Linked DNA regions of Homo sapiens: region 1 is linked to region 2. The links come from fine-mapping of genetic effects on gene expression. A gene starts in region 2. The other region holds a variant in brackets. All regions are shown on one strand. Distances are between the middles of the regions.

Region 1 (16,214 bases), 66 kb after region 2:
ATGAGCTGAGATCGCACCGTTGCTCTTCAGCCCGGGCAACAGAGTGAGACTCCATCTCAAAACAAAACAAAACAAACCTTATATCCTCACTACAGGCATAGGGATTTATTTGTTTACTTATTTCTTTATACCATGCCTTGTTCCAAACCTTTTGTGGTAGTTTAAAAGGATACACAATAAAAATTACAATATGCACACAGAGACACACATACATACAAACTATTTTGCAATCTGCTTCTTCCACTTACCTTTATGTTACTATTATCTTTCCGAGTGGGTAACTTTGCAAAAAGATTTGAATATGAAAGTGGCTTTGTAAATGTGAAGTTGTGATGCTAGTATTCCCATTAGGATACTGAAATCTTAGAAGACATGCACCTATACTCAGGCCGTGATTTGGGTGGGAATCACAGCACATGTGTAACGAGTGCTCAGGACACTCACAGTGCAGGTGCAAAGGCAAGATGCACAGTCAAGCCTTCCTCCAGTTGAGGTCTGAGAATCACCTGCTTTCATTAGGGATACTTTTTCTTCTTTTGTTTGAGACGGAGTCTCACTCTGTCACCCAGGCTGGAGTGTAGTGGTGTGATCTTGGCTCACTGCAACCTGCGCCTCCCAGGTTCAAGTGATTCTCGTGCCTCAGCCTCCCAAGTAGCTGGGTTTAAAGGTGTGTGCCACCACACCTGGCTAATTTTTGTATTTTTAGTAGAGGCGATGTTTTACCATGTTGGCCAGGCTAGTCTCAAACTCTTGACCTCAAGTGATCCACCTGCCTCGGCCTCCTAAAGTGCTGGGATTATGGGTGTGAGCTGCCATGCCCGGCCTCATTAGGGATACTTTTTAAAACACAGGCCAGGCGTGGTGGTTCACACCTATAATCCCAGTGCTTTGGGAGGCCGAGATAGGAAGATCTCTTGAGCCCAGGAGTTTGAGACCAGGCTGGACAAAATAGTGAGACCTTGTGTCTACAGAAATTTAAAAAGTTAGCTGGGCGCGGTGGCTCACGCTTGTAATCCCAGCACTTTGGGAGGCCGAGGTGGGTGGATCACGAGGTCAGGAGTTCGAGATCAGCCTGACCAACATGGTGAAACCCCGTCTCTACTAAAAATACAAAAATTAGCTGGGCATGTTGGCACTCACCTGTAATCCCAGCTACTTGGGAGGCTGGGGCAGGAGAATTGCTTGAATCCAGGAGGCAGAGGTTGCAGTGAGTCGAGATCGTGCCATTGCACTCCAGCCTGGGTGACAGAGCGAGACTTTGTCTCAGGAAAAAAAAAAAAAAAAATTTAGCCAGGTATGGTGATGCACACCTATAATCCCAACTATTTGGGAGGCTGAGGCTGGAGGATCATTTGAGCTCGGGAGCTGGAGGTTCCAGTGAGCTATGATCACACTACTGTACTGGAGCCTGGATGACAGCAAGACCCTGTCTCCAAAAAAATGTCTAAGACATTGCTGGAGCCTTGAAAAAAAGAAAAAAAATGCAGAATTCGGGGCCCCACTCCACAGCTTCCAACCCAGGCTCTAGGGGTGGGACCCAGGTAGATGTGTATTTAACAAGTGCTCTGGGTGATACTTCATGTGTGTTCAAGTTGGGGAACTCTGGCTTTGATCAGTCATTCCACAGATGCTGACTGAGGCTGACACTGAGCCATGCCAGTGTCCCTTGCTGTGCTCTGAGAAGGAGGCCTGTGGCATTTGAGAGTGTGTGATGCAAACAGGGCCAGATCAGGTGCTGGGTGTTAGAGGGTAGAGCCCAGAAGACGGAGAGCTCTGGGAATGCATTCAGTCAACAGAGATTTGTCGAGCACCTTGTGCTAGCTCTTCCCAGTACTGGATGCAACTGTGAACAAAGCAGGCAGAAGCCCCTCTCCTTGTGGAGTTCATATTCTAACAGCGGGGACAAAGCCAGTAAGAAAAACTATCAAATGAACAAATATAATTTTAGGTGCCAGTAGAACAAGGGAGAACAATGAAATAGGGCAAGTGATAGAGAAAGGGCAGGGCCAGTGAGAGTTTAGGGAAGACTTCTGTAAAAGGTGCATTGGAGTTGGTATTTAAATTAAGAAGGGAGCCAGCCATGTGATAGGCCCTGAGATGGAAATGGGCTTGTATGTTGGAGGAACAGTAGTCGCCTGTGTGGCTTGAGTTGAATAAACGATGGTGAGAGGGGTTGAAGTTGCCTGAGAGGTGGAAACTAAATCCCATAGGCCTTGTAAAAGCATAGTAAGGACTTTGGCTTCGGCATCAGTTATCCATTGCTACATAGCAAACCACTTCAAAACGTGGTGGCACTTTGGGAGGCCGAGGCAGGTGGATCACTTGAGGTCAGGAGTTTGAGACCAGCCTGGCCAACATGGTGAAACCCCATCTCTACTAAAAATACAAAAATGGCTGGGTGCAGTGGCTCACGCCTTGTAATCCCAGCACTTTGGGAGGCCGAGGCAGGTGGATCACGAGGTCAGGAATTCGAGACCAGCCTGACCAACGTGCTGAAACCCCGTCTCTACTAAAAATACAAAAATTAGCCAGGTGTGGTGGCATGTGCCTGTAATCCCAGCTACTCAGGAGGCGGAGGTTGCAGTGAGCCGAGATTGCGCCACTGCACTCCAGCCTGGGCGACAGAGCGAGACTCTATCTCAAAATAAAATAAAAAATACAAAAAAAAAAATTATCCAGGCATGGTGGCACATGCCTGTAATCCCAGCTACTTGGGAGGCTGAGGCAGGAGAATCGCTTGAACCTGGGAGGTGGAGGTTGCAGTGAACAGAGATCGCGCCACTGCACTCCAGCCTGGGTGACAGAGCAAGACTCCAACTCAAAAAAAAAAAAAACCAAACCGTAGTGACTTGAAACAACAAACAACAGCCGTTGACATGCTTATGATTCTGTGGACAGGTTCAGGTGGGCCCGCTCGTCTACCTGGTGTGCTATCGGCTGGGTGTACACGTTTGCAGTCAGCTGATGGGTGAGCTGGCCTGGTCCCTGGCGGCCACACTCACCTGTCTGGCAGTTGACTGGGGCTATTGACCAGGGTGCCTTAGTTCTCCTCCACATGGCATCTCCAGTAGGCTAGCCAGGCTTCCTCACCTGGCAGCTGGGTTCCGAGAGGGCAAAAGTGGAAGCTGCAGTACTACCACTGTGTTCTGTTGGACAAGGGAAGTCACAGGCCACTCAGATTCCAGGGACTAGAAAAATACACCATGACCCAGTTCAGTGGCTCACGCTGCAATCCCAGTATTTTAGGAGGCCAAGGTGGGAGGACTGCTTGAGCCTAGGAGTTTGAGACCAGCCTGGACCACATGGCCAGACCCCGTCTCTACTAAAAATAAAAAAAAAATTAGCTGGGCCTGGTGGTACGCGCCTGTGGTCCTAGCCACTTTGGAGGCTGAGGTGAGAGGGTTGCTTGAGCCTGGGACGCTGAGGCTGCAGTAAGCCATAGTGGCGTGACTGCACTCCAGCCTAGGTAACAGGATGAGACCCTGTCTCACACACACAAAAAGAAATAAACTCTACCTCTTGATGGGAAAGTGTCAACATCACATTGAAAAGAGTTGAAAGGGATGGGAGGATTGTTTATAACTATCATTGCAAGCAGCCTACCACACCACATTGGATGGGAAGGTCTTGCAGGGTTTTGAGTGGAAGACTGATTTTTCAGAAGATCGCTCTGGCTGTTTTGAGACTAGAATGTTAGGGCCAAGAGTATAAACAAGGAGACCCATACTAAGTAGATGACTATAATAGTCTAGGGGAGATACTGAAGGAGCTTGAACAGAGGCAGTAGCGGTGGGGGTGAGAGGTGGTCAAATTCAGGATATATTTAGGAGCCCCAGTAGATAGGGTTTGGTAGAACGAGTGTGATGGGGGTGGGGTATAGAGAGAAGACAAGGCTAGCTTTTTGGCTTTCTTAACTGACTAGATAGTTCTATTGACTGAGATAGGGAAAATGAGTGAGCAGGTTTTGGGGGAAGTCAGGTGTTCTCTTTAGCACACGTAAAGTTTGAGATGCCTGTTGGATATCCAGTTGGAAATGCCAGTAGGCAATTGGATTTATAGGAATCAGGATGTAGTTTTGGGAACCAACCATTCATGTTGTATTGAAGGTTGTGGACTGGATGAGTGAGTGTTGCTAAAACAGAACAGATTTCTGAGGACTGCGCCTTGGCATTTTATGGTGTAATAAGAAGAACAAGGGTTTCAGAGTCATATAGACCAGAGTTTTAAATTCTGTCACTATTAGGTATTAGCAAATCACCATTACTTCTTCTTTTTTTATTATTGTTATTATTATTTTTTATCTTTTATTTGAGATGGAGTCTCACTCTTTCGCCCAGGCTGGAGTGCAGTGGCGTGATCTCGGCTCACTGCAACCTCCACCTCCCAGGTTCAAGCGATTCTTGTGCCTCAGCCTCCCCAGTAGCTGGGATTACAGGTGCCCGCCACCACACCCGGCCAATGTTTTTGTATTTTTAGTAGAGACGGGGTTTCACTATGTTGGCCAGACTGGTTTTGAACTCCTGACCTCAAATGATCTGCCCGCCTTTGCCTCTTAAAGTGCTGGGATTACAGGCGTGAGCCACTGTGCCTGGCCACCATTACTTCTTTGAACATCTGTTTTCTTAGCTGTAAAGTGCGTGTTGGAATACATACCTTGGGGGGTTTGTTTTTTTTGTTTTTTTAGAGATGGGGGTTTCACTCTGTTGCCTAGGCTAGAGTGCAGTGTCTTACAGCAGCCCTCCCGCCTCGGCCTCCCAAAGTGCTGGGATTACAGGTGTGAGCCACCACTCCCTGCCTACCATAGGGGCTTATAACTAAGATAATGTTAACTAAGTTAATTAATGTGACAGTTAACTAAGATAATGTTCAAAAGGTGCTGGTGGCCGGGCGTGGTGGCTCATGCCTGTAATCTTAGCACTTGGGGAGGCTTGAAGCCAGGAGTTTGAGACCAGCCTGGGCAACATAGCAAGACCCCATCACTACAGAAAATAAAAAAATTAGCCAAGTATTGTGGTGCATGCCTGTGGTCCCAGCTATTTGGGAGGCTGAGGTGGGAAAAATCACTTGAGCCTATGAGTTCGAGACTGTAGTGAGCCATAATTGTGTCACTCTACTCCAGCCTGGGTGACAGAGTGAGAACCTGTCTTAAAAGAAAAAAAATTTTAAAAAAGGTGCTGGCACCTGGGTCTTCCGTAAAGGGAAACTCCTGCCATCTGAGGAGCATGGGGCTTCTGAACTCAGGGCCTAGAATGGTAGTAGGATTTCTTGGAGATGGATCCTTTAGTTTTGGAGACCTGTGAAGCAGCCTTCACTGTTTCCTTCCTGTCTGTCTAGCTGTGCCCTCCTGGCTGAAGAAGCCCCAAGACAGCCAGCTGGAGGAGGGCAAACCCGGCTACTTGGATTGCCTGACCCAGGCCACACCAAAACCTACAGTTGTCTGGTACAGAAACCAGATGCTCATCTCAGAGGTGAGAAAGAAGAGTGTTGCTAGTGGATGGGCGGGGCCTTCCCTCCACTTGCCCTCTTCTGTGCTCACCTCCATAGCACTCTTACCCTGGAGGCAGCCTCCAGGGAGAGGTGGGTGTGGGTTCAGGCTCTGAGGCCTCTCACCTGTGCTGCAGGACTCACGGTTCGAGGTCTTCAAGAATGGGACCTTGCGCATCAACAGCGTGGAGGTGTATGATGGGACATGGTACCGTTGTATGAGCAGCACCCCAGCCGGCAGCATCGAGGCGCAAGCCCGTGTCCAAGTGCTGGGTGAGCCAGCATGTCTTGGGGGAGCACCCTTCCTGGCTAGGCAGGAGAGGAAAGGGGAGGGAGCAGCAGGCCTGGCCACGGCCTCTCCAGCGGCCCCAATTCCTCGTCTTTCTACCCACCCTCTGCTGAAACAGAAAAGCTCAAGTTCACACCACCACCCCAGCCACAGCAGTGCATGGAGTTTGACAAGGAGGCCACGGTGCCCTGTTCAGCCACAGGCCGAGAGAAGCCCACTATTAAGTGGGAACGGGCAGGTGGGTACAGTGCCGGCATAGGGTAGGGGCAGGCAGGCAGTTCACTGATCAGATACATACCTGAGGGCTGCTGGGTGCCCCGCACTGTGCCAGGAAATGTGGAGATTAGACAAGCAGTGCAGGGCTGATGTATAGTTTAGTTAGGAAGGAAAAAGCCAGACACAGAAGAGGTCAGATTATAGCCTTGGACAACATGGAAGACAACTCAAGGCAACAAGTGATTGGATTGGTTCAGACAGTGCTGTAAAGTCCTCTCTTCCCCTTTTCCAAAATAGTTTATCTTTTCCAACATAAAAATTACATGGAGGCCGTGCATAGTGGCTCACGCCTGTAATCCCAACACTTTGGGAAGCCGAGATGGGTGGGTCACTTGAGGCCAGGAGTTTGAGACCAGCCTGGCCAACATGGTGAAACCCCATCTCTACTAAAAATGCAAAAGTTAGCCAGGCGTGGTGGCACATGCTTGCAATCCCAGCTGCTTAGGAGGCTGAAGCAGGAGAATCGCTTGAACCCAGGAGGTGGAGGCTGCAGTGGGCCGAGATCATGCCATTGCACCAGAGTCTGGCTGACAGAGTGAGACTCTGACTCAAAAGAAAAAAGAAACAAAAGTTACATGGGCTCCTTTACAAAATACTGGAAGAGGCCGGGCGTGGTGGCTCACGCCTGTAATCCCAGCACTGTGGGAAGCTGAGGTGGGTGGATCACGAGGTCATGAGATAGAGACCATCCTGGCTAACATAGAGTAGTGAAACCTCGTCTCTACTGAAAATACAAAAAATTAGCCAGGGGTGGCGGCACGCATCTGTAGTGCCAGCTACTCGGGAGGCTGAGGTAGGAGAATTGTTTGAACCCAGGAGGCGGAGGTGGCAGTGAGCCGAGATTGTGCCACTGCACTTCAGCCTGGGTGGCAGAGCGAGACTCCATCTCAAAAAAAAAAAAAAAAATATTGGGAGAAAAAATGTACAGTCCTGCCGTTTATCATCTTTGGGTGTATGTCTTCTTTTTCTGTGCATATGTTTTTCTTTTTTTACCTAGCAGTTTTATTGTATATATAGTTTCAGTTATTAAATTTACATGATTGGCTGAGTGTGGTAGCTCATGCCTGTAATCCCAGCACTTTGGGAGGCCGAGGTGGGAGGATCGCTTGAGCCCAGGAGTTCAAGACCAACCTGGGCAATACAGGGAGACCCTGTCTGTACAAAAAATTTAAAAATTAGCCAGGCATGGTGGTGCATGCCTGTAGACATGCTTATTGTAGAATTAGACAATACAGATAACTATGTAGTTTTTAAAAATATTTTTTAAAATTATTTATTTTTATTTTTTTTGTAACGGTGTAATTTTATACCCTTTTTTACTTACCATTGTCAAGCATTTCCCCACATCTTTATACACTCTTCATGAATATTTGTTTTGATGATCCTAATAATATTTCAACAATTGGATTCACTGTAATTTACTTAACTGTTCCTTAAATGTTGGAGATTTGGGTTGTTAACCAGCCACCCACCCACCCCCTTTTTTTTCATTGCTGCAATAAACATCTTTAAGCCAAAGTTTTTTTCTGGATTTAGGTTTATTTCCTTTGGGAAAGATTCCCAGAATTGGGATAATTATGCACGAAAGGGGGTATGAACATTTTTATAGCCCTTGATGTGAGTTGCCAAATTATTTTTTAAAAGGTTGGACCAATTTTGACATTTCCACCTAGAGTGAGAGAGTACAGTTGTAGATTCTGAGGAGGAAGTAGGCTCCCTCTGCTCAGGTCTGGGGGAACTTTCTGGGAGAGGTGAGGCTTAAAATGGATCTACAGCCTGGGATGGTAAAGAGCGGGAATGGGCTCTAGGAGGGAGAAGTGATGGGCAGCGGAGTAGGAACAGGGCCGATCTGGGCCCAAACAGAGTCCGGTTTGGCAGACGTGGAATGTCACACAGGGCAGTAGGAGGAAGAGGTGAGACTGAAGAATTGGAAGAGGGGTAAATAACGGAGGGGCTTCTAACACTTGGCTCAGGAGTTTGGACTTTGCCTGTGGGTGGTCAGGAGCGATGGTGTGTTTTTGAGTAGAGGTGAGGGACTGAAGGCATTGCCAGCTGTCTGTGTAACCCTGATCCTTCCCATAATTTCCCTTTGTTACCCCTGCAGATGGGAGCAGCCTCCCAGAGTGGGTGACAGACAACGCTGGGACCCTGCATTTTGCCCGGGTGACTCGAGATGACGCTGGCAACTACACTTGCATTGCCTCCAACGGGCCGCAGGGCCAGATTCGTGCCCATGTCCAGCTCACTGTGGCAGGTGCGACCGTGGCAGGGCCCTGGGGCTGGGAGGGCCCTCTGGGGTAGCACCGTGTACCCTGCCAGCCCCTTGGCTTACCCCTCCCTGCGCCTCGCTGGTCTCTTTTCTTCCAGTTTTTATCACCTTCAAAGTGGAACCAGAGCGTACGACTGTGTACCAGGGCCACACAGCCCTACTGCAGTGCGAGGCCCAGGGGGACCCCAAGCCGCTGATTCAGTGGAAAGGCAAGGACCGCATCCTGGACCCCACCAAGCTGGGACCCAGGTAGGGCCACCTCTCTCCCACACCCGTCCCTCCTCTCCTGCAGCCCCCCTCCCTGCGAGCTGGCCAGCACTATGGCTTCTCCCCCGACAGGATGCACATCTTCCAGAATGGCTCCCTGGTGATCCATGACGTGGCCCCTGAGGACTCAGGCCGCTACACCTGCATTGCAGGCAACAGCTGCAACATCAAGCACACGGAGGCCCCCCTCTATGTCGTGGGTATGGGCTGGGGAGGGTTATGCTGCACAGGAAGTGGTGGGCCCAGACGTTTGTCACCTTGTACTCAGCCCCTGTGTACAGAACATGGCACAGAAGCCATTTTTGTGGCAGCGGTGGGGATTCGGCCGTCTCACCATGCTGCTGCACAGTCTTAGAGTCCTTGCTCAGAGCCGGGCTGTCGTTTATTTAACATCCAAC[G/C]GTCGGTGTGTGTGTGTGTGTGTTGTGGGGGAGTGGGGGGGTGTTCTCTTCCTACAATGCTGCCTCCCAGGTTCCTGCAGCAGCCACACATATCTCTGGGTGGCTGGGGAGGAGGACCAGGTCAGAATGCAGTAGGACAAGGTTCTTTTCTCCAGGAGGCCCAGAGAGGATGATGGGTCAGGTAAAAGGCCCTGCACTTAACTCTCTGCCCCTGGGAGACTTATTTCTCCTCTGGGGACTTGTTTCTGCATCCACAGGTGAAAGTGGTTTAAATGAGAAGCTCTTAAACTTTCTTGGTTTGGCAGCAGAGTTATTTTTCTAGACAAAGTATAATGTGAAAGTTTAAATGGATGAAAATGAACTGAGGAGGCCCCCTTGGTGGGAGCCACTGGGGTGTGTGTGGCAGTTGGGGGATCCTGCATGGTCTCCCTTCATTCCCCTAATGCCTCTTGAGGCCCCTCAGTGTGGGCCATTAAAAGGCCCCTAGACCAGCAGATCCCTTCTACAGATCTGCTTATTGAAAAACCTGCTCTGTGCCAGGCAGTGCCTGGAATTCTAAACCTGAAGCTCCCAAATGCTGCTCTCCGGGGCCTGGCTCACATTATCAAGTCACTTGGGAAGCTTAACAAATAACGTGGGTTTGTGGTAGCTCCTTGACAGGTGTGCTTATCCGTGTCGCCTGTCTTGGCTTCCGATGCAAAGCCAGCTTGGGAACCCCTGGCCTCATCTCCTTCAGAGTCTTCGTTTGACCTTGGTGGGGCATGAGGACCTGCTGGCCCTTGTTAAAGCCAGTGAAGGTGGTGACCCTCCCGGGCCATCTGTTAAGTTGCCCTGTTGATGGGGTTGGGAGGAGTTAGTAGAGAAGCAGGGCTTCTTTTGCTTAGCAGCCCCTGCCCAGACCCATCTGTGTGTCTCTCAGACAAGCCTGTGCCGGAGGAGTCGGAGGGCCCTGGCAGCCCTCCCCCCTACAAGATGATCCAGACCATTGGGTTGTCGGTGGGTGCCGCTGTGGCCTACATCATTGCCGTGCTGGGCCTCATGTTCTACTGCAAGAAGCGCTGCAAAGCCAAGCGGCTGCAGAAGCAGCCCGAGGGCGAGGAGCCAGAGATGGAATGCCTCAACGGTGAGGGGCCCTGGACGGGGAGGTGGTGCCCGTGTGCGGGAGCTGAGCGCCCTCCCGCGGCCACGGAGGGGAGAGCGCCAGCACTCTGGAAACCGAGCGGCTGTTGCTGGGTCCTGGAGCTGGGACTGCCCCACCCCTAGCGGGAAGCCTGGAGTTGGATTCCCAGGGCCTCGTCTTCTGAGCAACCTGGCTTGAGACTTCTTCATTGGAGCCCCTTGGACCAGCTTCCTATGATTCCCTGCTGTTTCCTCCTCCCAGCACAAAACCACAGATATCATTAGTATATGTACACACGTTGCTGTTGCATGTCTTGTCTCCCTCTATGAGTCTAAGAGCTCCCCCAGGGGCAGTCTTTCTGTTTACTTCCCTTCTCCTATCCCCACTTCCTGGACTGGGAGCTCCTTGAGGTCATTGCTGGGTCTCTCCTATCAGCTCAGGTGTTCAGGAGCAGAGGTTGGGTCTCCATTATTGTGATTTTCCCTTTGTGCCTGTTTAGGGCTTTGCCCAATAGGAGGCCCCATGAAAGCAAAAATCCTTATGTGTAGCTATGGTATTAAGGACCAGTGATTCAGATTAGATGTCTGCAGTTGGCTTCATCTCAGAGGTCATAATCAGCTGCATCACTAAGGGGTCATACCCTAGGGGATAGCCATACATCCCCCACCCAGCCCCAGCCCCATTATTTCATCATTTGGGCTTGCCCTTTCATGTGGAGCACTGTGATTGGACCCAAGTTGGCAAGAGTGGAAGACCAGGGGACAGAACAGAAATCCCCATGGTGGCCAGAGTGTCAGGTCTCATCGTGACGCTCTTGTCCTCCTCCTTCCCAGGTGGGCCTTTGCAGAACGGGCAGCCCTCAGCAGAGATCCAAGAAGAAGTGGCCTTGACCAGCTTGGGCTCCGGCCCCGCGGCCACCAACAAACGCCACAGCACAAGTGATAAGATGCACTTCCCACGGTCTAGCCTGCAGCCCATCACCACGCTGGGTATGTTGCCTTGACTACAGCTGCCCCTGCCTAACTACAAGTCACCCGCTGTGTCTTGAGGCTGGGTACGGGCTAGTGTTCTGAAGTCCCTGAAACCTAGAATGTTAGAGGTGGAGGGAAGCATAGGTAGAGATCTAGCCCAGTGTGGCCCCAGAGCCTGTTATTCACTGCCCTTCGTGCAGATTTTGTCATTCCTGTGTACTACCTGTAGTATTATTTACTTGATGTTTTATTTAAATTGACTCTTTAAAAAAAAAAACTAAGTTACCATTGTTCTAGGAAAAAATATGAGAAATCATGGGTTTGTCATAGTTACGTTTTTTCCTAGCATACGTTAAGACATGTTTACCATGAGCCACCAAAAATTCTCATGCGAGTCACCCTTTGGAAAATGCTGAATATTAGTCCCACCCTTTTATTTTGTTGCTGCAGACACTGAAGCCTAAGGAGGGAGGGGGTCACAGCAGAACCGGGTCTCGTGCCCAGCCCAGGTGGGTGGGTCCCCACTGTGGGAGAGGCTAGGCCCCTCCCCCAGGTCAGGAGCTGCCTCGGCCTGGGTGAAGGTGGCTGGCTGACTCAGACTGTACCCACAGGGAAGAGTGAGTTTGGGGAGGTGTTCCTGGCAAAGGCTCAGGGCTTGGAGGAGGGAGTGGCAGAGACCCTGGTACTTGTGAAGAGCCTGCAGAGCAAGGATGAGCAGCAGCAGCTGGACTTCCGGAGGGAGTTGGAGATGTTTGGGAAGCTGAACCACGCCAACGTGGTGCGGCTCCTGGGGCTGTGCCGGGAGGCTGAGCCCCACTACATGGTGCTGGAATATGTGGATCTGGTATGCTGTTGGCAGGGGACGTGGGGGTCTCGGGTAGGGAGGGCAGTGTCCTACAAAGGTGGGAGTCAGTGGTTGGAGCACCGTGAAAACCTTGTCTCGTGCAGTCTCAGCCGAGACCTCACCTGCCTGCTGTTACACTTTGCCCACCTTATGATGCTCAGCTTCTGCCTTCCCTGCTCTTGGATGCCTGCTTTCCCTTTATCAGCACCCAGTCTTTCCATCTGTATCTCAGGGGCGTTGGTCCTAAGTTTTTCTGGGACTTCTCACTGTCACACTGCAGGGATGCCTTCCAGGTCATCTTCTCTGACTCTTGTTTTCTTTGGTTTGTTATTTTTTCCTCCCCAAAAGCTTGTCCCCACTTGAGAATAAATATATCAGAACCCACTTTGCCTCCCTCCTTCCTAGCACCACTTGTGACATGAGTGTTACCCCAGCCACCAGCCTTCTCCTCTCCACTCAGGGTGTCATTCCCAGAGCTGCGCCTTCCTCTTCATTCCCCAGCTGGTCCTTGCCCTCACCCCATGGTCCTCAAACTGCTGCTTCTCAAATCCCTAGTTCTGGGGCAAGAGCGGGCAGGAGTCCTATCAGTCTTTCCATTAACAAGTACTTACGCGGCTGGGCACAGTGGCTCACACTTGTAATCCCAGCACTTTGGGAGACTGAGGCAGGAGGATCGCCTGAGGCCAGGAGTCCGAGACCAGCCTGGGCAACATAGCAAGACTCTGTCTCTACAAAAAAATTAAAAACAAACAAACAAGTACTTATGAATGCTTTATGTATGTTTCTGCTGCTGGCGTTCTCCTTTGTTTGTTTAGATTAGATTGTAAAGCTCTGGAGGACAGGGGTTTCCTCTCAGGAATCTTTGAGGGCAGAGGGTAGGGGACTGTTTTCCTCTTGGCTCACTGAAGATGGGGGCTCTGTTGCCCCACCTGTCTGGAGGTTCCCCTTGGGGTAGAAATGCCAATTCTCCTCCTTTCTAACTGAGACAGCCTCTAGGAGGCGTCTCCTATATATTTTTAAAGTTCTGCACTCCCAGTGAACTTCCCCCTGGGAAAGGGGCCCAGGCTAGCTTAGGCCTTCTCACTGCCTCCCCAGGCAGGAATTCTGCGAGCACCTGCTTGGTCTGAGGCTTTACAGCCAATGGCTGTGCACTGACCTGAGCGAGATGCCTGGCTTTTCCCTTAGGGAGACCTCAAGCAGTTCCTGAGGATTTCCAAGAGCAAGGATGAAAAATTGAAGTCACAGCCCCTCAGCACCAAGCAGAAGGTGAGGACAGGGAGTGAAGGAGGGAGGGAGAGGGTGCCCAGGGGTGGGCCAGGAGCAACAGAGGCACCATTTATTGAGGGCTCTCTATGGGCCAGGCCCTATGGTAAGAACTTCACATGTGTTACTGTAATTATCACGGTAGTCGTCTGAAATATATACTACTATCCCCATTTTGTGGATGAAGACATTGAGGCTTAGGAGGTTGTCTGACCTGTCCCAGGTCATGTAGCCTGGAAGTGGCTTTGCATTGCCATGCTGGCTTCACGGAGAAGAGCTACCCTCGGACCTTGCCTCTGGGCAGGAGCTTGCATTGGAGCAGGACGCCTGCCCACCTGCAATGAGCTCTGAGCTGGAGAAGCAGCAAGCAGTCCTAGTGCAGGGGCCTGCTGGGCTAGCTGTGGGCCTGAGCGTGTTTCTTCAGCTCTGAGTGGAGAAGACTCTTCTGTGAATGGGCTGCCTGGGTTTCCCCCTCTGTGGTTTGCATCTTGTCCTCTCCCTTGGGCTGTAGCTGCCCAGCCTTTCATTCCAGTTTTCCTCCTGCCTTTTGCGCAGAGGTTGTTCTGGGCACAGAGCCCTGGCTGGGGCCCCTGTGGTAGAGCAGACCTTGGTTGAAACAGTGAAGAAGGGAAAGCTTGCCTGCTACCCCCTGCCACCTCAGTCCATACCTTTCCAGTGCCTGGGGCTTGCTGTGGCCCGGCCCCTTCTTCCTTCCCTCAGGTTCTTCTTGCCCACAGCTGCCTCCTCTCCCCTCTGAAATGGATCTACTTCCTTCCATGTGACTGGAGAGTCTGCTTCCAAGCTGGCAGTGAAGTGACCTCATAAACCAAATCAGAGCTCAGGGCAGGGTAGGCAGAAGGCTCTGCCCTTTCTCCCAGGGGACCATTCCTTGCCTGCTAGGCTGTCCCAGGTCACAGACTCTGGAGGCAGAGCAGAAAGGCATGGCTGGCAGATGAATCAGGTGAATGGGACCCTGGCTGCCCCCAATCTCTCTGGGGAAGCAGCTCTGTGCCCTTCAGGCTGGCCCCCTCTTATTACATGTGAATTTACTAAGACCCAGACAGGACAAGTGACCTGGCCACCTGACACCACACCCCTACCTCCTTCCCCATGAAACTGCAGGAACTGTGTATAGTGGCTGTAGAGGAGAAGCCACAGGATGGGACTTGCTACACCAGCTAAGTGAGATTTCAGGACTAAAGAGCTCACAAATTAGGACACTCACAGAGCCAGTGACTCCTCACTGAGCCAGGTGTGGCCCCAGGGGCCCTTGGGAATGCAAAATTAAAACAGACAGGCATCAGCTAGGTGCGGTGGGAGGCTAAGGCAGGAGGATTGCTTCAGCTCAGGAGTTTGAGACCAGCCTGGGCAACATAGTAAGACCCTGTCTCTACAAAAAATAAAAAAAAGTTAACCGGGCGTGGGGGCATGCCTGTAGTCCCAGCTACTTGTGAGGCTGAGGAGGAAGAATCATTGGAGCCCAGGAGGTCGAGGCTGCGGTGAGCCATGATTACACCACTGCACTCCAGCCTGGGCAACAGAGCACGATCCTGTCTCAAAGGGAGGGGAGGGGGGGAAAGGACAGGCATCTTGCCCTTGGGGCACTTATGATCTAGTGAGGAGATTAGGTACATGAGTATGACCTGTGCCTTACAGACTTGAGGTAAAACAGAAAGCAAGTGGGAGGCATTAAGAGATGTTGAAGACACCCATGTCCTGTAGGTGGACAGATGGTTGTGGTTAACAAAGAAGTCTTCCTAGTAGAGAAAACCATTTGAGTTTAGTTCACAAGGACAGGATGTAGTTGAATGGCAGAAAGGGGATGGCTTCAAGAGTCAGGGGAGTCAAGGTGGGATTCTCTGGCTGGGATGAGACATAGGCTGACAGGAAGTCAGTTACCTTTCTCATGTGACCTAAGGGACTCTATTTGACTGCAAGTCATCACCATCTTTGCTAAATATCTTTTTCACACTTTTTTGCCATAGTGTCTTAAATATGATGGGGGAACTTTAATAAGTTGGGTTCTACACTCTCCAAGGACCATACTCTGCGTTACATAGAGAGGATGCTTTTAAAAAAAACAGGCAGGGCTCAGTGGCTCACACCTGTAATCCCAGCACTTTGGGAGGCCGAGGCGGGCAGATCACGAGGTCAGGAGTACGAGACCAGCCTGGCCAACATGGTGAAACCCCGTCTCTACTAAAAATACAAAAATTAGCCAGGTGTGGTGGTAGGTGCCTGTAATCCAAGCTACTCGGGAGGCTGAGGCAGGAGAATCACTTGAACCCGGGAGATGGAGGTTGCAGTGAGCCAAGATCGTGCCATTGCACTCCAGCCTGGGAGACAAGAGCAAGACTTTGTCTCAAAAAAAAAAAAAAAAAAAAAAGAAATGCAGGCCAGGCACAGTGGCTCATACCTGAAATCCCAGCACTTCGGGAGGCTGAGGCGGGAAGATCACTTGAGGCCAGGAGTTTGAGACCAGCCTGGCCAACGTGGGGAAACCCCATCTCTACTAAAAATACAAAAAGTACCTGGGCATGGTGTCACGTGCATATAATTCCAGCTACTCGGGAGGCTGAGGCAGGAGAATCGCTTGAGCCTGGGAGGCAGAGGTTGCAGTGAGCTGAGATCTTGCCACTGCACTCCAGCCTGGGCAACAGGAGTCAAACCCTGTCTCAAAAGAAAAAAAAAAGATTTCTGGACCATGACTCAGAATGAGGGAATTAGAGTATTTGAGAGTGAGGTCTAAAGATGTGAATTTTTCAAACAAGCTCTCCAGCTGATTCCTAAGCTCATTAAAGTTCAAGGAGCCCTGGTGGAGACTAGTAGCTTTGAAATGCTTTTTGATTATAATCCCTTTTAGGAAATGCATTTTAAGCTGGTGCAGCAGTATGTGCCTGTAATCCCAGCTACTTGGAAGGCTGAGGCCAGAGGATCCCTTGGGCCCAGGAGTGAGGCCAGCCTGAGTGACATAGCAAGACCTGCATCACTTAGCAACAACAAAAAAGAAATGCATTTTACTCATGATCTGGT
Region 2 (15,660 bases):
GCCGGGCGCGGTGGCTCACGCCTGTAATCCCAGCACTTTGGGAGGCCGAGGCGGGCGGATCACGAGGTCAGGAGATCGAGACCATCCTGGCTAAAACGGTGAAACCCCGTCTCTACTAAAAATACAAAAAATTAGCCGGGCGTAGTGGCGGGCGCCTGTAGTCCCAGCTGCTTGGGAGGCTGAGGCAGGAGAATGGCGTGAACCCGGGAGGCGGAGCTTGCAGTGAGCCGAGATCCCGCCACTGCACTCCAGCCTGGGCGACAGAGCGAGACTCCGTCTCAAAAAAAAAAAAAAAAAAAAAAAAAAAAGAAAATATAGGTGGACACTTTATTAAAGTACAGTATTATAAGAAATCACAAGGGTCGGGCACAGTGGCTCATGCCTGTAATCCCAGCACTTTGGGAGGCCAAGGTGGGCAAATCACGAGGTCAGGAGTTCAAGACCATCCTGGCCAACATGGTGAAACCCCGTCTCTACTAAAAATACAAAAATTAGCCGGGCGTGGTGGGGGGCACTTGTAATCCCAGCTACTCAGGAGGCTGAGGCAGGAGAATCACTCGAAACCAGAAGGTGGAGGTTGCAGTGAGGTGAGATCGCGCCTCTACACTCCAGCCTGGGCAGCAAGAGCAAAACTCTGTCTCAAAAAAAAAGAAAATAAATGACAGACCAGATTTATTTGTGTATAAGAGGAAGAGACTGGGCTTGGTGGCTCACGCCTGTAATCCCACCACTTTGGGAGGCCAAGGCAGGTCGATCACCTGAGGTCAGGAGTTTGAGACCATCCTGGCCAACATGGTAAAACCCCGTCTCTACTAAAAAAAAAATATAAAATTAGCCAGGCATGGTGGCATATGCCTGTAATCCCAACTATTTGGAGACTGAGGCAGGAGAATCATTTGAATCCGGGGGTTGGTGGTTGCAGCGAGCCGAGATCGCACCACTGCACTCCAGCCTGGGCAACAGAGCAAGACTCTGTCTCAACAAAATAAGAAGCGGCCCAGCGCTGTGGCTCACTCCTGTAATTTCAGCACTTTGGGAGGCCGAGGTGGTCGGATCACCTGAGGTCAGGAGTTTGAGACCAGCCTGACCAACAAGGTGAAACCCTGTCTCTACTAATAATACAAAAATTAGCCAGTTGTGGTGGCATGCACCTGTAGTCCCAGGTACTCGGGAGGCTGAGACAGGAGAATTGCTTGAACCCAGGAGGCTGAGGTTGCAGTGAGCCAAGATCGCACCATTGCACTTCAACCTGGGTGATGGGGTGAGACTTCATCTTAAAATAAATAAATAAATAAATAAATATAAATAAAAGGAAAGAGAGAAACAACCTTAAGTAGAGATATCACGCCAAGGCAAATGATAGAGTTGTCAATGTACAGAAAATGAAAAATGAAAAGTTTGTTTGTTTTGTTTTGTTTTGTTTTGTTTTTTGAGATGGAGTTTCGCAGTGTCACCCAGCCTATAGTGCAGTGGTACAATCTGGGTTCACTGTAATCTCTGCCTCCCAGGCTCAAGTGATCCTCCTGCCTCAGCCTCCCAAGTAGCTGGGATTACAGGTACGTGCTACCACGCCAGGCTAATTTTTGTATTTTTAGTAGAGATGGGTTTTCACCATGTTGGTCAGGCTGGTCTTGAACTCCTGACCTCAAGTGATCCACCTACCTCAGCCTTCCAAACTGCTGGGATTACAGGTGTGAGCCACCACACCCAGCTGAAAAGTTATTTATTTTTTGTTGAGATAGAGTTTCACTCTTGTTGCCAGGCTAGAGTGCAACATGGCACGATCTTGGCTCACTACAACCTCCACCTCCCGGGTTCAAGCAATTCTCCTGCCTCAGCCTCCCGAGTAGCTGGGATTACAGACATGCCACTACGCCTGGCTAATTTTGTACTTTTAGTAGAGACGGGGTTTCTCCATGTTGGTCAGGCTGGTCTCGAACTCCTGACCTCAGGTGATCCGCCCACCTCGGCCTCCCAAAGTGCTGGGATTACAGGCGTGAGCCACTGCGTCCAGCCAAAAAGCTATTTTTGAATGTGATCTGTGTGAAAATAATTCCCTATGGTATGACATATGATAGGCAGGGATGATGTATCTCAGAAATCATACTCCTGTCTTGATATCCCATCAAATATCAATGTTTACATTTAGCGTTTGGATGTCTGGCAGGACATTAAAAAATTGGCAGAGCTGTCCCACACATGCAGAACATCTATAGCGTTCTTGCCTCCTCAAAGGTAATCTTCATGGTGACAACAACAACAACAAAAAAAAAAAAAAAAGAAAGAAAAAAAACACCTCCAGAAATTTCTTAAAATCCCCTAGAGGGCGATACTGTCCCTTAGCCTCAGAGCCATCCTGTTCAGCAATTTCCCCTCCCTTCAGCCCCTGGCTCCAGGGTAGTAGACTTTGTCTCTTAGAGTTGTGCAGTGAGTGTTGGGCCCTGCTGGGAGGTGGGGAACCTCAGATTCCCATAGGTCTTTTGCAACCCAAATGTCTGATGGGGACAGGCCTGTCTTCATAGGTGGCTGCCACACTCAACAATTTGGCTGTGCTCTATGGCAAAAGGGGCAAGTACAAGGAGGCAGAGCCTCTGTGCCAGCGGGCACTGGAGATTCGAGAAAAGGTACCCATGCCCTCTCTCCCTTCTTCTCTTGTCGCTGTGACCCTTCTCTACATGGCTCCTCTGGTCTAACCCTCCTCCTTCACTTTTTTTTTCTCACCCCCATCTCTGCTTTGTTCTCTCTTCCTTCATTCCCTTTCCTCTGCTTTCCACATGTGTGTGCCTACATGCAAACACACGTGTGCTTGTGCACACACATGTTATCATAGCCATTTATCCACTCCTTTGTTCCCTTTCAGGTCCTGGGCACGAATCATCCAGATGTGGCAAAACAGCTGAACAACCTGGCCCTCTTGTGCCAAAACCAGGGCAAGTATGAGGCCGTGGAACGCTACTACCAGCGAGCACTGGCCATCTACGAGGGGCAGCTGGGGCCGGACAACCCTAATGTAGCCCGGACCAAGAACAACCTGGTATGGGAGGAGGGACAAAGTAGGTGGAAGAAACGGAGAGGGGGGCACAGAGGTGGGGGGAGGGGGGGCAGGCGGAGAGGCCACTTGGGTCCTAGAGTCAGGAAGCATCACAGTCTGGCACACTGCTCTCATCAACTTTGTGCTCATGTCTGGGGCTGCCTTTGCGGATGAAGGATCTGCTTCATTCCAGTTATAGAAGTTCCACAGCTTCTTGGGAGTGGGCTGGGAATACCCTTGACCCTACACCTGGAGAAGGAGGTGTGAGAAAGATCTCTGGGGAAAGTGAGAGAGACACTGAGAAGTGGAACTCCCTGAGCCTGGTGAAGACCTTGTCTAAAAAAAAAAAAAAAAAAAAGACCTTGCCTCCCTCCATGTTTTGTTCCTGTATTTTTGCCTTTCTGTCCTCCAGGCTTCCTGTTACCTGAAACAGGGCAAATATGCTGAGGCTGAGACACTATACAAAGAGATCCTGACCCGTGCCCATGTACAGGAGTTTGGGTCTGTGGATGGTGAGTGGTGAGGGCCTGGGGAAGGGGCTGTGGGGAAGAAAAGAAATTCAGACCAAAGGTCGGGGGTTAGGCCACAGCGGTTCCCAGGGGGAGCCAGACCCCTTCAGTCCAGCCTGTCAGCCTCTGGGTCCTGGCTCTCCGACACTGTCTAGCTCCCATCTCTAACCTCCCCACCCCATGTATCACCCCTAGATGACCACAAGCCCATCTGGATGCATGCAGAGGAGCGGGAGGAAATGAGCAAAGTGAGTGGGGGGAAGGGGGGCCAGCCTGGGGAGCTCAAGGCTACCGGGGTCTCTGTCTTACTCCTTGCATTAGCCCAACTCTCACTTCCCATCCCAGCACCAGCCCCAGATGCATGGTGTCCTCCCCAGCCCAGCCTGCACCCTAGCCCCATGCCACCTTGCATCTCAGCATCTCTGTATTCTTATATTTGGCTCTCCCTGCCCTTCTTTCTGGCCTCTCTCTGTCCTGCAGAGCCGGCACCATGAGGGTGGGACACCCTATGCTGAGTATGGAGGCTGGTACAAGGCCTGCAAAGTGAGCAGGTGAGCTGACAGTGAAAAGCCAGCTTGGCCTCCGATGCCCTCCATCCAGTCCCTGCTCCCAGCCTCCCAGACCTTTTCCCTTCCTCCCGTAGACTTTCCCTCAGCTTTAGCTCTGTTCCCTCTCCTATTTTCTTATTTTTTTTCCTCTTGTCTTGCTTGGAAGACAAATGTTTTGTTTTCTGAACTCATTCTCTCTTCCTTCTCTGGTCTCTTTCTCACCACAGCCCCACAGTGAACACTACTCTGAGAAACCTGGGAGCTCTGTATAGGCGCCAGGGAAAGCTGGAGGCTGCTGAGACCCTGGAGGAATGTGCCCTGCGGTCCCGGAGACAGGTCAGAAGCCCAGAGGGGAAGGAGGTCCTAGAGGGAAGGGCCCTGGGGATGAGAGAGTGCCGAGGTTTCTTGGGAGTCTCCTAAGAATAAGCGGAAAGGCTGATGAAGCCAGGAGGGAGAGGAAAGTGAGGCAGTGTTGTGATTGTGGTTGTTTTTAAGCATGTTCTTACCCCCCACCTGCATTTTGTGGTCAGGACTCTAGTTTCAAGATTCACTAAATGGGGATATGAAGGAGAAACCCTGCCCTTTCATAAGGAGGGGACCTGGGTGGTATGGGTGAGAGGAGTGAGGTTGGGGAGAGCCTAAATCAAGAATTTCTTAGATTGTGGGTCTCAATAGTAGGTTGTGAAATCAATTCAGTATGGGCCATGGGGATAAAAATATATACAGATCTATATATAGCAATGCATTGCAAATAGAAAAGGTAAGTATTATTCCAGTAGGTATAAACTGAGACATCACAAGGAAAAATGTTTTCCTTCCAGTGGCTGATGGTGAAAAAAATTTGAAAGCCCCATCCTGAGGAGTTAAGGAGTAGGAAGTCCCAGGTCCTTCCTTTTCCTTCCAGGGCACTGACCCTATCAGCCAGACGAAGGTGGCAGAGCTGCTTGGGGAGAGTGATGGTAGAAGGACCTCCCAGGAGGGCCCTGGAGACAGTGTGAAATTCGAGGGAGGTGAAGATGCTTCTGTGGCTGTGGAGTGGTCCGGGGTAAGTCTGATCATTGCCTTTTCATCTCTCCTGCCCACTCCTGCTGGTGGTGGTGAGAGGCTCTTGGCCATGCTGTCCCAGTCTAGGTAGTGTATTCCTTCAGGGGTATCTCTGGGAGCCAGTTTTTGACAGGACTTTTATTTCCAGTCACTGGGCCTTGGGGGTGGGGGATGTGTGCAGAATAAATGCTAGGAGTAGACTCAGAAACCCATCTGTGTGGGATCCTTGTAGCTTTCATTGCTCACTCCTTTCTGCCAGGATGGCAGTGGGACCCTGCAGAGGAGTGGCTCTCTTGGCAAGATCCGGGATGTGCTCCGCAGAAGCAGTGAACTCTTGGTGAGGAAGCTCCAGGGGACTGAGCCTCGGCCCTCCAGGTATACATGGAAGTCAAGATACAGTAAAGTGGCCGGGTGCAGTGGCTCACGCCTGTAATCCCAGCACTTTGGGAGGCCGAGGCGGGTGGATCACCTGAGGTCAGGAGTTTGAGACCAGCCTGGCCAACAAGGTGAAACTCTCTCCTAAAAATACAAAAATTAGTCGGGTGTGGTGGCAGGTGCCTGTAATCTCAGCTACTTGGGAGGCTGAGGCAGGAGAATTGCTGGAACCCAGGAGGCAGAGGTTGCAGGGAGCCAAGATCATGCCATTGCACTCCAGCCCAGGCGACAACAGCGAGACTCCGTCTCAAAAAAAAAAAGAAAAAAAAAAAAGATATGGTAAAGCAGGCAAGTAAAGTAAGCCCTTGCCTCCAACTCCTCTTGGCTCCTGATCTCTGGAGAAGTATCTCGGAGAGAAACAGGGAGGAAGTCAACGGGCCAGCCATGGAGAGAGAGTTTGGGTAGAATGGGTGCCCCAGTGTGGCAGTGCTCAAGAGGCCCACAGCCTTAAGGCCACTCAGGAGGAAGAGAGGAGGCCTCAATTCTTCCGTTTTCCATTGTAGCAGCAACATGAAGCGAGCAGCCTCCTTGAACTATCTGAACCAACCTAGTGCAGCACCCCTCCAGGTGAGAGCAGTGCTTGTGAGCATATTGGTGGGTGAGGAAAAAAGGACAGCCAGTGAGCAAGCCCAGTGGAGTAAGGGAAGAGGGAAGGGAGAGGAGTCATCTGGGATGAAGATGAGCCAGGGGATTGCAGTCATTAAGGAATCAGGCAGATAGCTTGTGGTGAGTGCTGACCACCAAGGGACAGTTTCAGGCCAGACATAGTAGCAAATAAGTTAATAAGGAGGGAAATAGGAATATTCTGTAAACTGGTACTTTGGAATTATGAATAATTTAAGAATTATTTGGAGATACGAATTATTTTTTCATCCTGCAGCCGCCTTAGTAGTAGATGAGAATGGAAAAAGAAAAGTATTAAATAATCCCCATCTGAGAAAACACTAGTGATATTTTAATGGCAAATGACTTCTTGTATCAACACACAAGTATATGCCAGTATTCATGTGGTTCTTCCAGGTAGCTTCTCCACCAGATTGTGGCCTTCTGGAAAACCCTAGCAGAGGCTAAACAAAGTCCCAGGTCCAGAGATAGACTGGTCCAGAGACAGATGTGATCCTAGGTCCAGAGATACACTGTGACCATGGGATGGATGGACTCTAGGAGCCAGTCTTTGGGAGGCCGAGGTCCCTGAGCTGATGGGGTAGTGTTGTCTGTTTCAGGTCTCCCGGGGCCTCAGTGCCAGCACCATGGACCTCTCTTCAAGCAGCTGACATTCAACCCGGCCCCCAGGTCTGCTGGGTCCCCCCACCCCCACAGCCCTCACAGCATTCCCCATTGCTCCTGGCTCTTCCCCACCCCTAGGTGGGACAGTGAAGGGGAGCAGTTTAACCAGAAGATTGCTGCTGCCCTTAGGGTCTCAGCTCCCTCCTCAGGAATCCCTCTTAGGAAGGACCCTCAGGACACCCTCTCTGCACCCTGTGGTCCTCTAGAGTAGCTAGCTCTGAGGCCCCAAGGTGGGTACAAAGCAGGTATGGCCCTCAGAGATGCAGCCTGCTGCTGGCTTTTCAGTCAGAGGGTTGGGGGCTGGCCAGCCAAGCTGCCTTGCCCTGGCCGCTCTTACTCCCTCCCTCTGCTGTCTCACTTCAGGTCCATGTATTTCACTTTTCTTAAATAAAAGAATCAGGTAACCTTTCTGTGACTTGAGTCCTGATTGAAGAGGGTATGAAGCAGGGCTTGTGTTGGGGCCCTTCACAGAAGGTGAGGGGCAGTGATGGATGGAGCAGCAGGAGGAGTGTTGATTCTTGGATCTCTCCTCTCTTCCTCCCGTTGTTTGTATCATCTCCAGCAGGGCCTGTAGGAAGGCATCTGGGGGATGGGGAAGAAGGAGGCTCACAACCCAAGGAGAAGGTGCTGTGGACTGGGTTGTCAGGGACATGTGGTGGCCATGTGGCAGGACCCTGGAGTCCTGGCGCCACTTCTCCTGGCTGTGAGGCCCTCTGTGGCTGCCATTCCTCCTCCCAGCTGCTTGGGGGAAGGGAGGTCTAAACAGGCCTGGGGGGCCCTCCGGAACCAGAGGGGAGACAAGGCACTATCCATCCCCTCTCAGCATATCTTGGAGGCCTGAGCAGCAGCTGGGGCCCATCTTCTAAAGCTTGACTCCTCCTGACCCGCCTCCTACACCCCTTGCTGCTTTCACAACAAAGAAAGAATGTGGGGGTGGTGGCGCTGGGGGTGGGGGTGCCTGGAACAAGGGTTGTGCTGGGCCTCCCCACAGCTGGAGACTTGGCCATACCCTGACACAGCCCAGACTGCCTGGAGATGGACTTGGGATGAATTTGTCAGTTAGCAGACTTCAGCCTGGCTTTCAGAGCCCAGCGTGTTTCTACCTTTGGGTTCAGATTGGTCTACAGCCAAACCAGACCCCAGTCATGCACACTTCAGCCCCTCTCCGGGCTACACAGCATCTTCAGGTTACTTGGGGACATTAAGGACACCCTGCTGTTCTGGGTCTGCCGTTAAGATTTTGGGTTGCTGAAGAGTTGGCGGGGCCCGCCTCTTCCCCTGCCCCCACCTGGAGAATTCTGGGGGAACTGTTGGCCAGAGCCTCCAGGTATGCCCAGAATGGACCATTCTCCCCAGGGTCCACGGAATCGCACAAGTCACTTAGGTTCTCCCGGATCCCTGCAGAGTCGGTGGTGGGTACAGCAAATACTCAGGTCCCCTGCACTTCCCTGAGCCTTGCTCTCTCTATTCTCCATCCCTCTCCAGACCCCTCCCCCTACTGAGCTCCTCCCCGCCTCGGCGAGGAGGGGGCGTCGAGGGGGCGGGGCGCCGTGCGGGGGCCGGAGGGGAGGGGGCGTCGTGGGGCGGGGCTTGGCGGCGGCGGCGGCGGCGCGCGGGGACTCGGAGGTACTGGGCGCGCGCGGCTCCGGCTCGGGACGCCTCGGGACGCCTCGGGGTCGGGCTCCGGCTGCGGCTGCTGCTGCGGCGCCCGCGCTCCGGTGCGCTCCGCCTCCTGTGCCCGCCGCGGAGCGCAGTCTGCGCGCCCGCCGTGCGCCCTCAGCTCCTTTTCCTGAGCCCGCCGCGATGGGAGCTGCGCGGGGATCCCCGGCCAGACCCCGCCGGTTGCCTCTGCTCAGCGTCCTGCTGCTGCCGCTGCTGGGCGGTGAGTACCCGAGAGTTGGGGGCACAGAGCTTGGGAAGCGCGGGAGTCCCGTGGGCAAAAGGCTGCGCCCGGGGCGGTGGGTTTGGGCGGCTGGAACGGCCCTGGAGTAGTGGAGAGGCTCGCTGGGGGTGCAGGCTTGCGGCGGAAGGGCGCAAGGAGCCCGGGTGTCGGGAGGCTGGCGAAGCCTCCAGGGACGCGGTCAGGGTACCCCTCCCACTCGCGCCGCGGGGACGCATTTCCAGCCTCCCTGAGTTTTTCTGGTCTGAGCCGAGAGTTTGCTCGAGAACTGCCGAGAGTTGCTGGCTCTCGGGCCCAGATGGGGAGTTTCTTGTCGGGGGAGAAAAGACCATCCGCACCCACCGTGGGGAGCGCGATGGAGAAAAAGGAATTCCCCACCCCACCCGGCAGGGTCGGCCCAGGTAAGAGTTGCTGGTTTGGGGCCCGATGCCGGACAGACCTGCGGCGCGCAAAGCGCGGAGCTTTGTTACCTACGCCGACCCGACGTTCCCGGCTTCCCTCCTCCGAGTTCCTGGGCAAAGCTGAGACCCCAGATGGCCCTGCGGGTGAGGGCGGAAGAAGGGAAGAGTTAGGGGCCGCCCCCATCCATGGCCTCTAGCTACTGGTCTGGAACCCTGCGCCCACTCCGTGCCAGGGCCGAATCCGGGGATCCGAGGGTCCCAGGCTGTCGCGGTGACTAATGTGTGAAGGCCGCTGCCAAAATCGGGCATGGCCTGGCTGCAAAGGTGCGGACGGGGTTTGTTCTGCTCCTTCCTGGATTTCCATCCTGACTGTCCTCACAGAGGAAAGGAAGTATTTCTAAGGGAAGAAAGGCAAAAAGAGCTCATTCTGGCTTTTCTTGGGGGGGGGCCTTAGCATTTTAACGAGGGTGTGGCCCTCATCACCAGGGCAGACAGCACCGCCCCCCCAACTCCCGCAGCTTTTATTTCCTGGCTTGGTCACACCTAAGAGTCATCACTGAGGTGTTGAAGTGCCTTACAGGAAAGCACCAAGCCACCCGCACATCCCAAATAGCCCGGACTGGAAATAAAGCCCCCGACCCTCCACAACACTCCTTGGTGGTCCTCGAAGCAGCTTTCTCTTGGGGAGCTCTGTCGAGGAGACCTGTCCTAGGTGATCACCTTCCATCTCCTTTGAAGGTGGCAATGGGAAGGGCATGGGTAAGGAATTGCCTTTCTAATATCTTTCTGGCCTGCCAGCTGTGGAGGGGTTTTGGTGCTGGTGGAATCAACATCTCCCCTGCCCCCAGTTGTAAAAGGAGAGGTAAATGTAACCCAGGAAAGAGACCAATCTCCAGGGATTTGGAGGAGGTGTTTCTGGAGTTGCCCCGTTTTTCTTGTGATGTGTGTGGTGGTTATTGCTCGTGGCAGAATCCACATCTGCTCCCAGAGGAAGTATGGAAGTTTTTTTGCACAGCCAGGATGGGGGCCCAGCCATCTGGGCGAGCAGCCCAAGCTCACAGGCCCCCTGGCTGTCCTGGTTGGGTTTTGGTGTGTGGGTCTGCCCAATGAGGCTGCCTTCACTGCTGCTGTTCAGGGTACTAGAGTCAAGGGGAGTTTCTGGTGAAGATGGGGCTCTTGCTCAACAAATGCTGAATTCCTAAATTCCTTCCATGAGAAGATGACTCTGATGTTAATTGACTTAATCTGGTGACTGGTTGGTGTTTAGTGTGTGTGCGCGCGTGTGTGTGGGGGATCCTGTTGGGGGAAGTTAGGGCAGGCTGAGGGCTTAGGACAGGAGGTCTGTAGTCTCCTCAGGGGTGGGGGGATGTCTTGTGCTCAACAAAGGAACATTTTAATGAGAGCCTTAAATCAATTCCACCAAATGTGCCTTGTTGTGGAACCTGTCCATGTGCTGTAAACAATTTCAGTGGAGGCCGAGGCGCCTGCTGTCTTCTAGTGAAATCCTGGGACTCAACCCACCCCCAGACGCATGACTTCAGGGGCAACGGTTTTTTAATAGATCACAGTAGATGTTTGCATCTCATTGTTTAATTGTGTAATTAACTGGAGTTGTAGTGAGATCCCACTGTTAATAAGGCTGGAGTAAGGAACCTAGGCTGGCTAGGTTTGTGGATTAGACCATTTTAAAGTCTGGGTAATTATGCCATAAATGGCAGAGTTACTTTCCAAACTTTGAGATGCTGTTGTAATAAATATGGTGGAGGAGGAGGAGGCTTGATGTTTGAAACTATGGATTCTTAACCCCAACCTCTTGTACAGTCAGCTGTGGTCACTTCTCATTCCAATTCCCATCCCCCTCCCTGGTTTCTTTCCTCCGGGCTCTTGTTTCTTTGGGGAAATTGAGTCGTCATGTTCTGGGATAGGCTGTCTGCAGATTCCTCAAGGCTCTGCAGCCTGTAATTCAGGCCTAGGAGTTGCTTTTATTAGTGATGGCTTTTCTCAGCTGTTGGGAAGTATGGTGGCAGGGCAAGGGTGCTCTTCTTGTCACTTGTCAAATGATATACTCAAACTCCTGGTGTTCAGAGCAGCATTGAGTGGTGGACAGAGCTCAAGCAATGGAGATAAAGTATGGTCCTTCCTTGGCATCTGCAGGGAATTGGAATAGGACTCCCTGAGAATAACAAAATCCAAGGGTGCGGCCAGGCCTGGTGGCTCACGCCTGTAATCCCAGCACTTTGGGAGGCCGAGGCGGGCGGATCATGAGGTCAGGAGATTGAGACCATCCTGGCTAACACGGTGAAACCCTGTCTCTACTAAAAATACAAAAAATTAGCCAGGCGTGGTGGCGGGTGCCCGTAGTCCCAGCTACTCGGGAGGCTGAGACAGGAGAATGGCCTGAACCCGGGAGGTGGAGCTTGCAGTGATCGTGCCACTGCACTCCAGCTTGGGCGAGATCGTGCCGAGATCGTGCCACTGCACTCCAGCTTGGGTGACAGAGCGAGACTCCGTCTCAAAAAAAAAAAAAAATCCAAGGGTGCTCAAGTCTCTTATATAAAATGGTGTCGTATTTACATATAACGTACACACAACTTCCCTGTATACTTTTGTTTTGTTTTGTTATGAGACAGGGTCTCCTCTATCACCCAGGCTAGAGTGCAGTGGCACAATCTTGGCTCACTGAAGCCTCAAATTCCTGGGCTCAAGCAGTCTTCCTGCCTCAGTGCTCTAAAGTATGAGGATTACAGGCATGATCCACTATGCCCAGCTTCTCCTGTATACTTTAAATCATCTCTAAGGGCCAGGTTTACGCCTGTTATCCCACCACTTTGGGAGGCAGAGGGAGGAGGATCGCTTGAGCCCAGGGGCTCAAGACCAGCCTTGGCAACACAATGAGACCTCCACCTGTACAAAAAAAAAAAAAAAATTGCCAGGCATGGTGGCACGTGCCTGTGGTCCCAGCTGCCCAGGAGACTGAGGTGGGAGTATTGCCTGAGCCCAGCAGGTTGAGGCTACAGTAAGCCATGATTGTGTCACTGCACTTCGGTCTGGGTGACAGAGTTCAAAAAAAAAAAAAAAAAAAAGGGCAGGATGCAGTGGCTCACGCCTGTAATCCCAGCACTTTGGGAGGCTGAGGTGGGCGGATCATGAGGTTAGGAGAGCGAGACCATCCTGGCTAACATGGTGAAACCCCATCTCTACTAAAAATACAAAAAATTAGCCAGGCGTGGTGGCAGGCGCCTGTAGTCCCAGCTACTTGGGAGGCTGAGGCAGGAGAATGGCGTGAACCCGGGAGGCAGAGCTTGCAGTGAGCCGAGATTGCACCACTGCACTCCAGCCTGGGTGTCAGAGCGAGACTCTGTCTCAAAAAAAACAAAAAAATCTGTAAATTACTTGTAATACCTATTACAATGGAAATGCTATGTAAATAACTGTTGTATTCTTTAATTTGTATTCTTTTTTATTGTTGTATTGTTTTTAATTTTTATCTTCCCCCAGTGTTTTTGATCCTCTGTTGAGGGATGTGGAGCCCAGGGATAAGGAGTATATCTGGCAAAGCAGCAACTCAGACTCATTGGCAGGCCCTGTGGCCCTGGATGAACCTCTTAGCTTCTCAGCCTCTTCTATAAAGGGACATCCTAGAGTTGTGCTGAGGATTAAGTATAATGAAGTAGGCCGGGTGCAGTGGCTCACATCTGTAATCCCAGCACTTTGGGAGGCCAAGGCAGGCGGATCACCTGAGGTCAGGAGTTCAAGACCAGCCTGGACAACATGGTGAAGCCCCGTCTCTACTAAGAATACAAAAATTAGCTGGGTGTGGTGGCACACACCTCTAATCCCATCTACTCAGGAGGCTGAGGCAGGAGAATCACTTGAACCCGGGAGGTGGAGGTTGCAGTGAGCCGAGATCGCGCCGCTGCACTCCAGCCTGGGCGACGGAACGAGACTCCGTCTCAAAAAAAAAAAATACACACACACACACACACACACAGCCCTTTCTTGGTCTTCCCTCTGTGGTGTGCTTCAAAGATTCCTTCAGCTTTACAGTCATTCCCAACAATAGACATTTTACCTACTGGGACCCTCCATTCCAGTCCAGCTGGAATATTTGCCATCTCCTAACACATATCTGGTTTTCTCCCACCTTTCTTTCCTTCGGGCCAGTCCCCGGTTGTACATTGCCTTCTCCTGTCTCTCTGTTGCCCAGCCCCACCGCCTCTTCTTCCCTGAAGCTGTCCTATCTCTCCTGCCAGAAGGTAGACACTGTAGAACTTCTGGACTGTCATTCTTGCGACACCATCCATATTTTTGCCCCTATTGGGTTTTGTTTTAATTTACTGAGGGGCTCTCCCATAGAGTTTAGTACAGTACTTATTTATAATGGGTTCTTATGTAGGTGGTTTTTTTGTTTGTTGTTTGTTTGTTTTTGTTTTTTTTGAAATGGAGTCTGCCTGTGTCTCCCAGGCTGGAGGCATTGGCACGATCTTGGTTCACTGCAACCTCTACCTCCCAGGTTCAAGTGATTCTCCTACCTCAGCCTCCTGAGTACCTGGGTTTACAGGTGTGTGCCACTGCACCCAGCTAATTTTTGTATTTTTAATAGAGACGGGGTTTCCCCATGTTGGCCAGGCTGGTCTCGAACTCCTGACCTCAGGTGATCTGCCCACTTCAGCCTCCCAAAGTGCTGGGATTACAGGCGTGAGCCACTGCACCCAGCCGATATAACAGGTCCTCATATAGGTTTATTTAAAAAGTGAATGAACCATTTGGGTGCAGGGCAGAATGATCAAGGGTGGAGTTAAATATCCCCTTGCATCCTAGGCATGGGGAGTCTTTTGCACCCTCCCCAGCTTCTTTGAGTTGGGGTTGCCTGTTCCTCCTTGCGCCTGCTCTACGGTGACCAAATTAAGGATCAGACCTTCCTTCCCTGATCCTGGGCTGGCTGGTTTTGGTGGTGGTTTTTCTCAGTTTTGATGTGGTGGGTCTTCTAGCTTTCTCCAAGTTCTGTGCGTGGGTAAGCACCGCTACGTATGAAGCTGACTGCAACTTAAAAACTGGTGCTAAAGTTGCTTCCTCAGAGAACTGGGTAGGGGCCTAGAGTATCTATAACTGTGCTACTTGAAGAAAGACCCAGGGCCACGTGGCATCAGCATTCCTGGGAGCATGAATCAGAATCGCAATCTGCAATTTATTTATTTATTCTTTTTGAGATGGAGTCTCACTCTGTCGCCCAGGCTGAAGTGCAGTGGCACGATCTTGGCTCACTGCAACCTCCACCTCCTGGGTTCAAGCGATTCTCCTGCCTCAGCCTCCTGAGCAGCTGGGATTACAGGCGCGCACCACCACGCCAGGCTAATTTTTTTGTATTTTTAGTAGAGACAGGGTTTCACCATGTTGGTCAGGCTGGTCTCGAACTCCTGACTTCATGATCCGCCCACCTCAGCCTCCCAAAGTGCTGGGATTACAGGCGTGAGCCACCGTGCCCTGCTGCAATCTGCATTTTAACAAGATGCTCAGGTGACTCTGTACCCCAGAGTTCCAGAAGTCCTGGCCTAGGCATCCTTCTTTATACAGAATCTCAAGGCACAGAGCTTTCCTGTTGCAACAGTATAAATTGGGAGCTGAGATGCTGCACAGTATTTGAAGATTTGCTTTAAATAACTCACTTTATGCGAACACTCCTTGGGGTGATGTGTACGCTTTAATATTACCTCCTTTGGGTTTAAATTGAATTAGATTTTGTCAAGAAATTTCTCCATTAAATGTGTGACTCTAGGAAGTCTGCAATATTCAGCCTGATGTTTAGCTCCTCTCAGAACCTCAGCTTTTCCTAGAGGAGAATACGGCTGATTTTATAACGAAAGCCAGTGGAGAAACTGGATTTGTTAGGCAGAAATTTGGTCGACAGACAACTTTTCAGGAATACATTTGGCTCATAAAGGGAGGCATGTCTCCGCTGGGCTTTGACAGCTGTAGTGTTGTTAGTCTTTGGAGCATTTCATATTCTGGAGTGAGGGGGTTTGTGTGAGTCTGTGTTTAAGCCAATGCAGCTTCTGTGAGACTCGTCTGGGATAGAGGTTGGCCGGTTCAGACTCTAGTGTTGGAGCCAAGAGCAGTTTGGGGCCAAGGATTCAGTCTTTGGTGTTTTCCTGATGGAAGAAAGGGTCATTAAACAAGGTTGGGTGTCCTTGGCCTGTGTCCCTCAACCTCCTGCTCTCCCTAACCTCAGTAGATGCCTCTCTGCTGCTGTGCCTGGGCACTACCCCTGGCCAGAGCCACGTGGTGGGGTTACAGGCTTGGGGCCACAGTTGCTGGCACTGGCCCTCACCTTGCCCTGGAGCTGCCGCCTGCCCTTCTCCTGATTCCTGCTCTGGCCCCCATCTGCCTGGTCCTTCTTCTGAGGGTGTGAAAGTCCTGCCATTGTAGCTGGTTAGAGTCCTATGTTGGAATTCTCTTGAGTTCACTGCTGAGCCCCCTGGCGCTTTGGTGGAGCTGGCCTGAGAGA

What was found. PIP is the estimated chance that this variant, and not a neighbour inherited with it, causes the effect.
Region 1: its variant is fine-mapped to the expression of PTK7 in whole blood (TOPMed, PIP above 0.99).

What each region holds. Positions count from the first base shown.
Region 1 is chr6:43,133,515-43,149,728 of GRCh38, forward strand. It overlaps PTK7 (protein tyrosine kinase 7 (inactive)), which reads left to right. Exons shown (of 20, transcript NM_002821.5): 8 at 5,335-5,468; 9 at 5,622-5,757; 10 at 5,892-6,011; 11 at 8,154-8,303; 12 at 8,417-8,567; 13 at 8,658-8,785; 14 at 9,903-10,106; 15 at 10,937-11,092; 16 at 11,686-11,918; 17 at 13,104-13,184. Among named protein-coding and RNA genes, the nearest start is that of SRF, 30 kb to the right of the region's middle. RefSeq lists an enhancer at 9,912-10,001. The variant G/C (reference allele first, on the strand shown) is at 8,984.
Region 2 is chr6:43,067,832-43,083,491 of GRCh38, forward strand. It overlaps PTK7 (protein tyrosine kinase 7 (inactive)), which reads left to right and starts at 8,483. Exons shown (of 20, transcript NM_002821.5): 1 at 8,483-8,736. The coding sequence starts at 8,658. It overlaps KLC4 (kinesin light chain 4), which reads left to right. Exons shown (of 16, transcript NM_201521.3): 7 at 2,523-2,624; 8 at 2,861-3,034; 9 at 3,444-3,543; 10 at 3,736-3,788; 11 at 4,021-4,091; 12 at 4,316-4,424; 13 at 4,993-5,133; 14 at 5,392-5,507; 15 at 6,071-6,134; 16 at 6,791-7,262. The coding sequence ends at 6,841. KLC4-AS1 (KLC4 antisense RNA 1) reads right to left here and starts at 8,399. Exons shown (of 2, transcript XR_002956347.1): 1 at 7,864-8,399; 2 at 6,502-7,436. RefSeq lists enhancers at 2,220-2,514, 3,351-3,851, 7,618-8,141, 14,912-15,478, 15,479-15,660 and silencers at 2,220-2,514, 8,471-8,570, 13,674-13,877.